2 linked regions of the Homo sapiens genome follow. Changing the gene in region 1 together with any one later gene gives a genetic interaction. Each region holds a gene or a part of one and is shown on either strand. Other genes may lie near its edges.

Evidence for each region. A genetic interaction does not mean that the proteins touch.
Region 2: changes in VPS72 (region 1) and SLC35A1 together harm fitness more than expected from each alone (negative genetic interaction), as found in Homo sapiens cells (one large-scale study listed by BioGRID).

Annotation. Positions count from the first base shown.
Region 1 is NC_000001.11:151,183,698-151,187,197, reverse strand, and holds part of VPS72 (vacuolar protein sorting-associated protein 72 homolog), read left to right. Parts: intron 1-1,247; coding exon 1,248-1,400; intron 1,401-1,577; coding exon 1,578-1,692; intron 1,693-2,704; coding exon 2,705-2,881; intron 2,882-3,500. UniProt on the Homo sapiens protein: Deposition-and-exchange histone chaperone specific for H2AZ1, specifically chaperones H2AZ1 and deposits it into nucleosomes.
Region 2 is NC_000006.12:87,475,974-87,479,473, forward strand, and holds part of SLC35A1 (CMP-sialic acid transporter), read left to right. Parts: intron 1-1,388; coding exon 1,389-1,566; intron 1,567-3,500. UniProt on the Homo sapiens protein: Transports CMP-sialic acid from the cytosol into the Golgi apparatus, functioning as an antiporter that exchanges CMP-sialic acid for CMP. Binds both CMP-sialic acid and free CMP, but has higher affinity for free CMP.

The DNA.
Region 1 (3,500 bases):
GGCTGCCATTCTAGCCCTAACCAGTTCACCTGAGGTCTAGGCTGTACTTCACGTTCTCTACTCCAGGCCATCTAACTGCCCCCAGAGCTTTCTGAAATACCCATTGTACATACCATTACCCCTCCCCTAAATCTTCAGTGGCCCTCCATTATCCATAGTAGCAGTACTCAGCTGTTTTTCTGTCCCAACACGCCTGAGGAATGACACATATTTCTCTCAGTAACTTTAGTTTACCTCAACAATGATTATCAATGGTAGGGAAAATAAGGAGATGGAGGGGATTGAGAATCACTGGCCTGCAGGTTAAAAGCGTGTTTATTAGTGTGACATTTAAGTTTCTCCATAAATGGAATGCAACCTTCTTTTCAAATCATACAGTCCTACAGTGCAATCAGTGTTGGAAGGAGGCAGTGCTGGAGCCAAATGCAGTTGGCTAACAAGGTTTCTTGACAGAGAAAAGTTTTACTTAGATCTAAATCCTTATTCCATAAACATGCTATACACATTACCATTTCTGTGCCTTTGTTTCTGCTATTTCATCTGCCCATGATTCCTTCCTCCCTCTTGGCTGTCTAAATACTAACAGTGTTTTCAATCATAGTTTAAGTCCTCTTCATCCTTTTTTTTTTTTTTCTTTTTGAGACTGTGTCTCGCCCTGTCGCCCAGGCTGGAGTGCAGTGGCACTATCTCAGCTCACTGCAACCTATGCCTCCTGGGTTCAAGCAGTTCTCCTGCCTCAACCTCCCAAGTAGCTGGGACTACAGGTGTGCGTCACCATGCCCAGCTAATTTTTGTATTTTTAGTAGAGACAGAGTTTCACCATGTTGGCCAGGCTGGTCTCGAACTCCTGGCCTCAAGTGATCTGCCCACCTCGGCCTCCCAAAGTGCTGGGATTACAGGCGTGAGCCACCAAGCCTGTTCGAGATCCACATCTCAAAAAAAAAAAAGTAAGATTATGTCCTCCCCTTTACTGTAAGCCCCTGAAGGTAGAGACCAAACCATATCCTTTTGTTCCCCAGTACTTAACAGTGTGTTGCAGGTAAAGGGCTATCAATTAATGTTGGAAGGAGGTGGTACTGGAGCCAAAGGCCATTAGCTAGAAAGTTTTCTTGCCTGAGGAAAATGAAGGGCTGGATTAGGAAGGAGAGTAGGGCAGCCCTTATCAAGAAAGTCGAGAGATTCTGTTCCTCCTGAAGGGGCATTAAGGCTTCCATTGCCAGCCAACCCTTATCTCCCTGTGTCCTTAGGAATCCGGAGATGATGAGTATCAAGGGGACCAGTCAGACACAGAGGACGAAGTGGACTCTGACTTTGACATTGATGAAGGGGATGAACCATCCAGTGATGGAGAAGCAGAAGAGCCAAGAAGGAAGCGCCGAGTAGTCACCAAGGCCTATAAGGTACAGGGGGAGTCCTAGTTGTCTTGGATTTCCTCAATTCCTATTCTCTCTTTCATCAGGTCCCAGTACTCCCTATGCCACTTCCATTTCTGGCAATGCTAGTTTTCTCTCATTGAGATCCTCATATTTCTCCTGACTTCTTCTGTTCCCCAGTATCTGATTCCAATCTGTCCTCAGGAACCTCTCAAGAGCTTAAGGCCTCGAAAGGTCAACACCCCGGCTGGTAGCTCTCAGAAGGCGCGAGAAGAGAAGGCACTACTGCCATTAGAACTACAAGATGACGGCTCTGACAGTGAGTAGGGATGTTAGGGTCAATTGGCAAAATTGGAATATAATAATAAAGTATCATATCAGTGTTAAATTTACTGATGTTGCTGGGTGCGGTGGCTCACTCCTAGAATCCCAGCACTTTGGGAGGCCTAGGCGGGTAGATCACCTGAGGTCAGGAGTTCGATACCAGCCTGGCCAACATGGTGAAATTCCGTCTCTACTAAAAATACAAAAATTAACCAGGTGTGGTGGTGGGCCCCTGTAATCCCAGCTACTTGGGAGGCTGAGGCAGGAGAATTGCTTGAACCTGGGAGGTGGAGGTTACACCATTGCACTCCAGCCTGGGCAACAAGAGCAAAACTCTGTCACCAGAAAAAAGTAATAAAAAGAAGAAAAAATTTACTGATGTTGATAACTTACTATGGGTAGGAAAATCCTCATTCTTAGGAAATACACACTGAAATATTTAGGGATAAAGGCCATGATGTGTACAACTTTAGTTACCTAATTTAGATCATTCAGAAAAAAACCACACATAACAAAATGCAAAAGGGCCAAAATATTACCAATAGGTGATGGGGTAAAAGATACATGAGTATTCCTTGTACTATTCTTGCAACTTCGTAGGTTTGAAATTATTTCAGGCCAGGCACGGTTGCTCATGCCTGTAATCCCAGCATTTTGGGAGGCCGAGGCAGGCAGATCACGAGGTCAGTAGTTCAAGACCATCCTGGCTAACATGATGAAACCCCATCTCTACTAAAAATACAAAAAATTAGCTGGATGTGGTGGCATGCACCTGTACTCCCAGCTACTCGGGAGTCTGAGGCAGGAGAATTGTTTGAACCCAGGAAGCAGAGGTTGGAGTGAGCCGAGATCGTGCCACTGTACTCCAGCCTGGGCGACAGAGCGAGATTCCATCTCAAAAAAAAAAAAAGAAAAAAAAATTATTTCCAAGTACAACATTTCAAAATAAATAAATAAAATATGTGGACATGAATTCAAAGATTTCTTCTTATCTCACTCTCTTCCAGGTCGGAAGTCTATGCGTCAGTCTACAGCTGAGCATACACGACAAACGTTCCTTCGGGTACAGGAGAGGCAGGGCCAGTCAAGACGGCGAAAGGGGCCCCACTGTGAGCGGCCACTAACCCAGGAGGAACTGCTCCGGGAGGCCAAGATCACAGAAGAGCTTAATTTACGGTCACTGGGTAAGTCTGTGGTTTCAGAAAAAGTGAGTAGAGGGGCTGAGGGGCATGAGAAAAACCATGAGACCTGGAGGACCAAAGAACTGGAGAGATGGAAATTTGGGATGATGGAATCAGAAGGAAGAAATGGCGGAGAGTAGGTAATTAGGTGCAAGAGTCTAGGCAGTTATGAGCACTCTGAAGAACAAGCTAAGGTACTTTGGTGTAAAATAAGAGTTGTATAGAACTGAGGTCAAATCCTCGTTCTGCTATTCATTTGCTTTAAGTCTGTAGGTAAATTACTTATTCACATTTTGCTTTTCTTGTTTATAAAATGGGGTATATACCTAATGACTCAGGAAATTTAGGCAGGAGGATCACTTGAGGCCAGGAGTTCATAACCAGCCTGGACAACATAGTGAAACCCCATCTCTTAAAAAAAAAAAAAGCAGGGGGTGATAATGTTGACTTTAATGATAATCATGAGAACGTGAAGTCAGCAGATTAGTCCTTCATGAGATAAATTGCTTTAAAAATCTCTTCATTTTATGGTATTGCTTTAAAAATCTCTTCAGTTTGGGCCAAGCGCAGTGGCTCATACCTGTAATCCCGGCACTTTGGGAGGCCAAGGTGGGTGGATCAC
Region 2 (3,500 bases), on another chromosome or scaffold:
TAGGTGGGAGGTGGGTGAGGAAAGTAGAAATAGTTTGATCCTTGGGTGATGGCAGTACCCGAGCAGGTCTGGGAATAAGGAAGTATGAGGGAGACTTGGTACCCACTGCTTATGGTTTTACCAAAGGTCTTGGACAGGCTCTGGTGCCTGAGAGATGGCTGCTGCTCAGATATACTTGCAGGCAATTCTTAAATTAAGTGTTTATATGTTTCCTGCATTTCTAGTTTTATAGAGGTGTGTTCTTAATATTCTTTTCCTGTGTTATGAATTATTGTTTTGTATAATGCAATGAAATGAGTGGCTAGTTGTAAGTTCTTATTGTGAAAAAGTTTTATATTAAGCCCCACTCATTTCTCAATTATTATTTTCTTTCTGCTGCCTTTAAATCTAGAATATACATTGCTGCAGTTGGTTTCATGCTTTGCATCCACAAGTTTGTAATCATAAAAATATTTAAAATATGTGCTGGGGCCAGGCGTGGTGGCTAATGCCTGTAATCCCAGCAGTTTGGGAGGCCGAGGTGGGTGGATCACCTGAGGTCAGGAGTTCGAGACCAGCCTGGCCAACATGGTGAAACCTCTTCCCTACTAAAAATACAAAAATTAGCTGGGTGTAGTGGCGGGTGCCTGTAATCCCAGCTGCTCAGGAGGCTAAGGCAGGAGAATTGCTTGAACCCGGGAGGTGGAGTTTGCAGTGAGCCGAGATCACGTCAAGATCATGCCACTGCACTCCAGCCTGGGTGACAGAGTGAGACCCTGTCCTAAAATATATGTCTGGCACGGTGGCTCACACCTGTAATTCCAGCACTTCAGGAGGCGGAGGTGGGCGGATCACTTGAGGTCAGGAGTTAGACACCAGCCTGGCCAACATGGGGAAACCCCATCTCTACTAAAAATGCAAAAAATTAGCTGGCTGTGGTAGTGCACGCCTGTAGTCCCGGGAGGCTGAGGCACGAGAATCGCTTGAACCTGGGAGGTGGAGGTTGCAGTGAGCTGAGATCGCGCCACTGTATTCCAACCTGGGGGACAGAGTGAGACCTTGTCTCCAAAAAAACCCACCACCACCACCAATATATATATAATGTAATTTATAACATCCTGAACTAGAATCAGTACGCTACATAGTCTTGCAATTGGGGCACTCCCTAGGAACAAAACTTATGCCTAATTGGCTGATGTTTAAAGTCAGCTGTGGTGTGTGTGTGTGTGTGTGTGTGTGCACGCTCATGTAATTGGCAAACATTGTTTTGAAAAAAATTTTTAAGCATGAGTTTTAGAAAATATTTTGTGCTTGGAATTGGAAAGTATTTTTAGGCTATAACTAGTTTATTAACTTATATATACATATATTGTCTACTAAGTAATGTCTTTGTTGCACGTATTTTCCAGACAATGTCACTTTATTATTCAAGTTATACTGCTTGGCAGTGATGACCCTGATGGCTGCAGTCTATACCATAGCTTTAAGATACACAAGGACATCAGACAAAGAACTCTACTTTTCAACCACAGCCGTGTGTATCACAGAAGTTATAAAGTTATTGCTAAGTGTGGGAATTTTAGCTAAGTGAGTATAAATACTTATAGTGTGTTAAATTATTTTTCTACCTGGTGAGGGTATTTGTTAGAAAATTCAAGCTACATCTTTATATGTTTAATTGCTCTGGGTCAGTGTTTCTCAACTAGGGGTGATTTTGCCCCCCAGAAGATTTTTTAGTTGTCACAACTTGAGAGATGCTACTGGCATCTAGTGGGTGGAGACCAAGGATGCTGCTAAACATCCTGCAATCCCCATGACAGCCTCACAACAAAGATTTATCCAGCCCCAAATGTCAGTACTGCTGAGGTTGAAGAACGCTGCTGTAGAATAGAAGTTGGCAAACTATGTCTCATGGGCCAAATCCAGCTTGCTCCCTGGTTTTGGTGTAATGGAGACTGACTGGCTTGCAAAGCCTAAAATATTTACTGTTTGGCCCTTACAGAAAACAATTATTGACTTGTGTTTTGGATGAATATAATAATAATAACATTTCTTGAGTGTTTCCTATGTTAAGTGCTAGGCACTGTGCTATGTGTTTTTTGTGTTTTCTCATTTACTTCTTCCACATTTTCAAGGTAAGTACTTTACCCCTGTTTTATTGACGCAGCATCTGAGGTTCCTTAAGATTACACTGTTAATATGTGGCAGCACCGGGCTTTGAATCAAAAACATCATGCAAGAATTGTTTAGCTAAGGATGTGGTATAAGAGAGGGTTAAGAATTAGGGGCATTGGAGGAGATAGACCTAATTTTAATCCTAGACTGAGATTGTGGCTGCATACACACTTGTAACCTCTTTAAGCTTCAGTTTGTTCATTTTTTTAATTTGAGAAAATAATATGGGGTGCTGAAAATTAAATAAAATCTAATAGGTAAATTACCAGGGGAAAGATTTATGAGATGGGGACCTATAGGAGTCATTGGGGCAGTTAAGAAGTCATACAGGTTTCAAGATGTGTGTTGGTGAGTGAAGGGAAGCAGGGAGGAATAGTGTTGTGTGTAGGCTTTTATGTAGAAACAGACATTACATTTAAATATTGAAATGTTACACGACATTGTGATTGCTTCAGCTTCAGCAGTGTGTGATGAGACAGTTGATAATGCAACTGCAAGCATGGCTATCATTTTGGGAAAGATACCGAGTGAAAGTGTTGAAAATTGGTTCTAGATCTTGAAAAGGCTTATACTAATCCACTTGAAGTAGTTCGAATATGAAAAATATGTGTTATAAATAAAGTTTCAGTGCCACACACAAAAAAACAGCACTCGAATACAAAATTTTCTTTTTTTCTTCTCAGCAAGGCAGTTTTCCTTCTATAGAAGGGTGTGCCCTCACAGATGGAGCAATGGTGAGCGCACACCTGGACAAGGGAGGAAAAGGGGACTTATTCCTTATGCACGTGGCCTCTATGGCTCTGTCGTTCCCCTATTGGCTAGGGTTAGACTGCACAGGCTAAACTAATTCCAGTTGGCTAATTTAAAGAGAGTGATGGGATGAGTGGTTTGGCGGGAAAAATGGTTATGGCAGAGCAGGAAATCGGAATGAGTCAGGGTGGAGAGGGTAATCAGAAAAGGTTGCTTTACGAGGAAGTTAAATTTAAAAGTAGAAGGCAAAGAATTGAACATACTGACATACTGATTCTTCGAAGAGAAATTTAGAACTCATATCTAACAATCCCCTCCTCTTGCATTTTCCTTACACCTCTTTCTCTTCAAACTTCTTTAACATGCCTTGGCTTAGTTCTGCTCAATTTTCCGAAAGAAGAAGCTTCTCTGGATAAGGTGGAGGATAGTTAAGGGAGGTTTTAGTAAGTGCCATTTCTATGAGCACTTACTCTGCACCAACCCACAGATGCATGGTATGACACAGCACCCGACAAGAATAAGTACACCCATTACAGCTGTGAGGGAAGTAAGAATTGAGGCTGTTATTCCTTTCCATTTACCGAACCACTTTTCTA